2 linked regions of the Homo sapiens genome follow. The protein of the gene in region 1 interacts with the protein of each later gene in a pairwise test. Each region holds a gene or a part of one and is shown on either strand. Other genes may lie near its edges.

Region 1 (3,500 bases):
AGTCTGGCTCCGGTGCCCATACTCCTAACCAAAATTTTATGCTGATATTCACTAGATGCACACACTAATATTACTGCTACTATCAATGGCAGTTAACATGAGTAAGTGCTTGCAATGTGCCAGGTGGCTTCTTAAGCTCTTTATACTTAGTAACTTATTTTACCTCAGTAAGAACCCTAAGAAGCAGGTACTCACTGCCATTTAATACATGAGAAAACTGAGATACAGAGAGATTACATGACTTGTTCAAGGTTACACAGCTGGGATTTGAGCCCAGAGAGATCTAAACTACCACACTCTTCTATTAATACTTCTCTACATCAGGGTAACCAATTACATGCTTAACTTATGCCCATTTCACAGAAAAAACTAAGACTCTAACCTGACAATATCAAGTAGCTTGGAGAGAAGGGCTACTTGACATGAGACAAAGCAAGGTTTTCTGGAGACCAAATCTCAGCAGTGTTGCAAAAGTGGGAGTAGTGGGCACTCGATGCCAGTGGTATTCTCTGATGCAAGAGCCTTGGAACCAACAATTCCTCCTCCCTCCCCCAACCTTTGCCTTAAAAATTCCCCATTCAGTGCAGGCAGATGCCTATAAATTTTCAGATGCCCCTACCTGGTAATGGATGACATGCTGGACTTTAGGAATATCCAGACCCCGAGCTGCCACATCTGTTGCCAAGAGAACACAGCTGGGGTAGAGAGAGAAAGCTTATTAATAATAACTAACAGCTATCTTTAATCAAATTCTTACCAACTGCTGAGCATCCTAAACATTACAGTCCTTACCAATACTCTGTAAGATATCACTTGTATACCCTTTTACAGAAAAACTGAGGCTCGGAGAGATTAACTTCCCAAGCTATCTACATGGCTATTCAGCTGTGGAGTCTGGATCCAAATTTGGGACTCATTGACCCCAACCAACATGCCATACTCTGCAATGATAAAGACTCCCTTCAGTGAGTTAAATGAGGCCATACATATTCTGGGTCAGTGACTCCTCTCCTAGCACCCTCTCATTTACTTCCTCCCAGTGGCACACAGACTTCCTTGCTCTTCCCCAAACAAACCAAGCATGCTCTCACCTCCAAGCCTTTGCACTTGCTACTCCTTAAGGCCTTAAAGGGTCTTGCCTCAGATGTCCATATGACTCACTTCATTACTTTCTTCAGCTCTCTGCTCAATTCTCACTTCATCAGAGACTGACCACACATACCCAATCTCTTTTCTCCAACCCCTGCTCGACTTACTTCTTAGGATCACTTGGCAGACTGTGGGCTTACTTTGCAATTTATTATCTCCCTCTACTAGAATGTAAGCTTCATGAGAGCAAGGACTTTGCATTACTCACTGCTGTTATTACCACCACAGAGAACAACATCTGGTTCATGGTAAGCACTTGATAAATGTGTTGGATGATGTTTCTCAATGTGTGGTTCATGGAAAGTCAAAAGTACTTGAGGTGCTTCAAAACATAAGACTCTGGCCCTTCAGGGTCCTCACTCCCTGCATGTCTGAGCTGAGGCCGGGAAATGCAATGCAAATCCTAGTTTGTAAAACATTAAACTACTGCTCTGGATCAAGGTCAGCAAACTTTTTCTGTAAAGAGCCAGAGAGCATTTCCAGCTTTGTGAACCACACAGTCTCTATGGCAACTATTCAACTCTGCCGCAAAAGAGGATATTGACAATACATAAATGGGTCTTGCTGTGTTCCAGTAAAACGTCTACTAAAAAAACAGGCAGCAGCCAGGTGTGATGGCATGCACTGGTAGTCCTAGCTACTTAGGAGGCTAAGGTGGGATTGCTTGAGCCCGTGAGTTCAAGTCTAACCTGGGCAACATAGCAAGACCCCATCTTAGAAAAAAAAAGGGCAGCAAGCAAGATTTGGCACGAGGCCTATAGTTTGCCAAGCCTTGTTCTAAGCTAATCTCAGTAAACCACTGATACTACTTACCAATTTTTAAAAACCAGTAAATCAAACACTTGTTCTAGAAACTAATTACCCCATGACCTGACAAAACACTGGCAAAAGACACTTTGTAGTCTGCCTCAACTTTCCAGGCCCTCATCTTGACAATCTGCACCCCATTCCCTGAGCATCAGTCTGGTCCAAAGGCAGATGGACAAAGACATCAGGAATAAGAAATAGCATGGGCTCTGAGGTCCGACAGGCTTGTCTGAGGCCCAGCTCTACCACTTCCAGGCAGAGAAACCTTGGGCACACTGATCAGCTTTTCTAGACCTCATTTTTCCATCTATAAATGAGAATAGTGATAATGGTAATAAGTAGTAAAGGGACTAGAAATTATTAAAGCTAACATTTAGCAATATATACATACTATGTGCTAGAGACTGTTCTAAACACTTTACACGCATGAATTTACAATCAATCTTCATAACAACCCTAGAATGGGTTCTATTATTATCCAAATAATGAGAAAATTAAAGTACAGAGAAATTAAATAACTTGACCACCTAAGGAGTGACAGAACTAGGATTTGATTTCAGGCATTCTGGTTCCAGGATCTGTGCTCTTAACCATGAATCTATTCTGCTTCCTCTTAAGGATGTTAGGAGAGTAACTGAATGTGATTCTGAATCTAAAGTGCCAGCACAGGACCTAATCTATTGTCTATACATTCAATATTATGTATTGTCACCTATATTCATTAGTATTGAAGTTTCTGTATGGCATTTAACTGCAACCAAATTCACTAAATGACAGTAACCTTGCCAAATGCTGTGCAAAAAAAAAAAAAGGCTACCTACTACTGAGACAAGGCCCCTATGACAGAAGGTGGCTTTTCTACCATTTCCCCACCATCCTGACCCCTTTTACCCCAGTAACTAACTAGAGGTTAAGCCTCTGGGGACAGTCCTAACTTACTCTTCCAGACGGGCAAACTGCTCCAGGTTTCTGAGCCTCTGCTTCTGGTGCATACAGGCATGCAGGGTCAAGGGCATGATATCAAGGACTTTGAGGAGCCCAGAGAGGCGTTTGATGCAGGAGATACTGTTGGCAAACACTAAGCTGCGGCCTGGATACTGCATCAGGAAGTAGTACAAGTAGAAGTCTTTCTCATCAGTCTCACAATGGATCTTGGTCTCTGTTAGCGTCTCCACCGTGGCCTCATTCCTTGTGAGGTCAATGACCTTGGGCTTGCCCCTCATGCCAATTTTCTGCATAAGGAGGTCAAGTTTGGCTGTTTTATCCATTTTCTTGGTGTGCTTCTTATGAAGGATTCGAGCAGGAGCCTGATGCACCAGGGTGAGTGTGGCAGAAAAAACAAGCGTTTGTCTCTTTGGGTTGTATTGGGAGTCATTGAGCATCTCTAGCAGCTGTGAGAGCTCAGCAAAATGGCCTTTCTCAACCATCCGGTCAGCCTCATCCACTACCAGGCACCTGCAGATCCAGAGAGACCCATATCATTGGTCAGCAGCGGGTTAAGAGGAATCATCTATAGCACACCCTACACTCATCCTAAACACACA
Region 2 (4,011 bases), on another chromosome or scaffold:
GAAAGAAACTCCTCACAGCCTCAGCATCCAAGTCAGGCCATGGGTGACAGCTGGAAAGTGATCAGGAGGCTGCAGTTTCTAGAAGAGGGTGGGGACACTGCGGAGAGAAGATGGGGCCAGATTCCGAGAAGACAGCATAAGCCCCTGTTCCTGTAAGAGCAGGGACGGAAGCAGGGACATAAACGCAAGGGATGAGCCCCAAAGTGTGACCCATGAGACATGATGTCACATGTGGTCTGGAGCCTGCGGCCACTTCTTCCCATCATATACACAGTTATGAGAACAAGTTGTGAGAACCACCTCCTCCCTTACCCAGCTGCCCCCACCCCAGAAGCCGTGTGATTTTGCCCCCCAGTGCCCTGTGAGTCACTCCACCCATGGAAACCTCACCCCACCCTGACCTCAAGCAAGGCAGAGTGCAGAAGACATGTCCTCCGGTGCTACCAGACCACTCTCACCAGCACCCACGACCTCAGCAGGGCTGGAGCCAGCGTGGAGGCCACTGGCTGTCCTCACAAAGCGAGGAGCAGGAGCCCCTGTTCGAGGAACATGCTTGGAGTTCGGAGCCTGGGCTAGGGTGGGATGTAGGTTGAGCAGGAAGTGGATGGCAAGATTAGAGCAACATCTCTCTTCTCCCACTCAGGGAGGAGGGAATGGCCACAGGCTCTGACACTCAAGAAGGGCCAGGCACAGTTCCAAGCACTTCACAACAACCCCTAGGGTCTACATGACCTACAATCCCAATTGTTCAGTGAAGAAACTGAGGCACAGTGAGGCTGAAGAACCCTACCAGTCCACACTGCTGGTGCATAACCGAGCTGCCCAAGCCCCGGCGGTCTGGCGTGTAGGCCCATGCTCTGAGCCGCCGCCTCTGCTTGCCTCTTACATCCCACACATGCGATGCTGTGCATCAGAAGCAAGGAGATGGCCCTGCTGGCCTGTTCATCAACACCAGGGCCGAGTCTCAAAGTCCTCAGCGCCCCGCCCTCCTCCGCCTGTGTGCCCTGAGTCCCCGAGCCCCAGCAGCTCTACTCGGCAGATGAGCCTCTGGCCCTGCTGCTCGCTTCCTGAGGGCTGTCAGTGGGGAGCCGGATGAGGGCTGAGGACAGGGTGGGTGCTTGTGGGAGGGGAGAGCACAAAGGACCTGTGACCACAGCTGGGGGCGGGGCAGGAAGTAGAAGTGATGTGAGTGGTGGCTGGTGCAAGGAGCCACAGTGGGCTGCCTGGGGGGCTGATGCCACCATTCCAGGAGCCTCGGTGAAGAGAGGATATCCATCTGTGTAGCCGCTTCTCTATACGGGATTCCAGGTAAGGAGAGAGCAGGGATTGGGGGGCCTGGGGCCCTGGGTGGAGGGGAAGAGGCTGATGGAGCAGGAAGTGCTGTGACCTATAAGACAAGACACCTGGGTCACAGACGGTGCCCATCACTAACTCGCTGGGCAGCCCTGTGTCCACCCTGGGCCTCAGTTTCCTCATGTATGAAATGAAGAGGTAGCGTGCAGTTTCTAAGGCCCTGCAAGTGCTGACATTAAAGCTTCTAAGAAAGCTGGAAAGAGGCTCCCTGGGACAGAATACCATGAGAGTCAGGATGAGGGCTGAGTTCACTGGATTAGGGTTATGACTGTGCCCGCCTCCTAGCTGGGATGAGCCCAGGGCCTTTGAAGATTCCCCTGGCCTCTTTGCCTCCCTGGGGCGAGCCACGCTGCCTGAAATTCCACCCTTCAAGTCACACCTTTGGGCAGGGCAGGAGGCTCCAGCTATAATGGGGGCTCTCCATAGCCCTCTTGTCTCAGAACCTGTGGTACCCAAGGGCAAAGGCCTTTGAAGAGCTCAGCTTGGATAAGGTTAGGCTTGGGTAAGGTTAGAGAAAGGAGGTTCCAGATCATAAACAGGCCCAGGCAAGGCCCCAGAAACACCTTAAAATTAGGAAGAACCTTCCAGACAATCATTGTCCATAGTAGGCAATAGGGGGGCCCCTGTCACTGCCGAAGGCCACAGAGCTTGGCAGGGAGTGGCAAAGAGGGGAGGGGCAGCAAGAAAGGATCTGAAGAGCAACCATCGAGGCCTCTCCCCACACAAAATCCAAGGGTGTGGTCAGGTCTGCCCCTTTTTTTTTTTTTTTTTGAGGCAGAGTCTTACTCTATCACCCAGGCGGGAGTGCAGTGGTACGATCTTGGCTCACTGCAACCTCCGCCTCCTGGGTTCAAGCGATTCTCCTGTCTCAGCCTCCCAAGTAGCTGGGATTACAGGCACCCGCCACCATGCCCAGCTAATTTTTGTATTTTTAGTAAAGAGGGGGTTTCACCACGTTGGCCAGGCTGGTCTCGAACTTCTGACCTCCAGTGATCCACCTGCCTCTGCCTCCCACAGTGTTCGGTTTACAGGTGTGAGCCACCACACCTGGCCAGGTCGGCAGATTTTATTCTAGAATTCGGGCTGATGTTATTCCATAAAGCTCAGAGGGAGAGCCCCAAAGGGAAAATGAGAAGAATAGGTGCAATATAGGACCTCATTTCTCTTCCAATTCTGTTAAGGGCTCAGTGGGAGGGAGAGAGGTTAGAGAGAGTGACAGAGACAAAGAAACAGAGTGAGAGTCAGGGTGGGCAAAGGGTGGCTTGTTCTGGGGCCAAAAATGACACTTCTTCAGAATGAAGGCTTCCTCAGGTCCCCAGACCCCTCCCTAAACCTGCTACAGCTACTCTGTCCCCTCTTCTGTGGCCACAGCCCCCTCCCCACCACCCACAGTTGTGTCCTGGGGACAGAGCCATCCACCTAGATCCCCATTAGGCCTTAGGGAAATTCTAAAAAGGGGCTCCCCTTGGCTGGGCTTTTCCCCTCTCTGGGCCCATCTGTACAATGTGGGGGCTGAACCAGGCCTATAAGGGACATACCAGCTCTGACATTCATTGAATAATGACTTAAGAGATATCTCAGCCCCTCCCCTTCCATGTGCCCTGATAATCTGTGGCTGTGGGGGAAGGGAGCAGTCATCCTCCATCCCTCCACCCATGGCTTCCCAGAGCCCAAGTGCCCCCTGTCTCTGCAGCTCCATGGCAGCCCGTCTGCTCCTCCTGGGCATCCTTCTCCTGCTGCTGCCCCTGCCCGTCCCTGCCCCGTGCCACACAGCCGCACGCTCAGAGTGCAAGCGCAGCCACAAGTTCGTGCCTGGTGCATGGCTGGCCGGGGAGGGTGTGGACGTGACCAGCCTCCGCCGCTCGGGCTCCTTCCCAGTGGACACACAAAGGTTCCTGCGGCCCGACGGCACCTGCACCCTCTGTGAAAATGCCCTACAGGAGGGCACCCTCCAGCGCCTGCCTCTGGCGCTCACCAACTGGCGGGCCCAGGGCTCTGGCTGCCAGCGCCATGTAACCAGGGCCAAAGTCAGCTCCACTGAAGCTGTGGCCCGGGATGCGGCTCGTAGCATCCGCAACGACTGGAAGGTCGGGCTGGACGTGACTCCTAAGCCCACCAGCAATGTGCATGTGTCTGTGGCCGGCTCACACTCACAGGCAGCCAACTTTGCAGCCCAGAAGACCCACCAGGACCAGTACAGCTTCAGCACTGACACGGTGGAGTGCCGCTTCTACAGGTGAGAGCTGGGGCTAGGGGTGGGGGGCTGGAAAAGGCGCGGGAAACTCTGGGTGGTCTAGGAGCCCTGGAAAGGCAGAGTCCTCCAATCAAACTTGGAGGCTGCTTCCACCAGGAAGAAACTGCAATCCTGGCTCTCAGACTTCAGGTGATTCAGCCCTGTGGCCTCCTCTCATCCAGGAGGTCCCAAATCTGGGAGTGCCCAGTGAGACATCAAGTAGAGAGAAAGTGAGTGAGACCATGCCTGAGAGTCCCAGCAGGGTGCCATTTAGGTCTAGTGAGTACTGAACCCTGCCTTTCCTGGGCACAGCCAGCCTTCCACAGAGTCCTTCCTGGATAGGGACAGAGGCAGGAGACCTGGCCGGGTCATCCTTCCTCATCGCTGTGTGACCTTGAGCATCTCACTTCTCTCTGAGCTTCAAT

The links. Proteins that work in one complex are often made in the same cells at the same time.
Region 2: the proteins of DDX24 (region 1) and PRF1 interact in a two-hybrid assay, tested with the Homo sapiens proteins (one large-scale study listed by IntAct).

The regions. Positions count from the first base shown.
Region 1 is NC_000014.9:94,057,203-94,060,702, forward strand, and holds part of DDX24 (ATP-dependent RNA helicase DDX24), read right to left. Parts: intron 3,412-3,500; coding exon 2,896-3,411; intron 696-2,895; coding exon 620-695; intron 1-619. UniProt on the Homo sapiens protein: ATP-dependent RNA helicase that plays a role in various aspects of RNA metabolism including pre-mRNA splicing and is thereby involved in different biological processes such as cell cycle regulation or innate immunity.
Region 2 is NC_000010.11:70,599,942-70,603,952, reverse strand, and holds the start of PRF1 (perforin-1 precursor), read left to right. Parts: upstream 1-1,211; 5' UTR 1,212-1,308; intron 1,309-3,020; 5' UTR 3,021-3,050; coding exon 3,051-3,589; intron 3,590-4,011.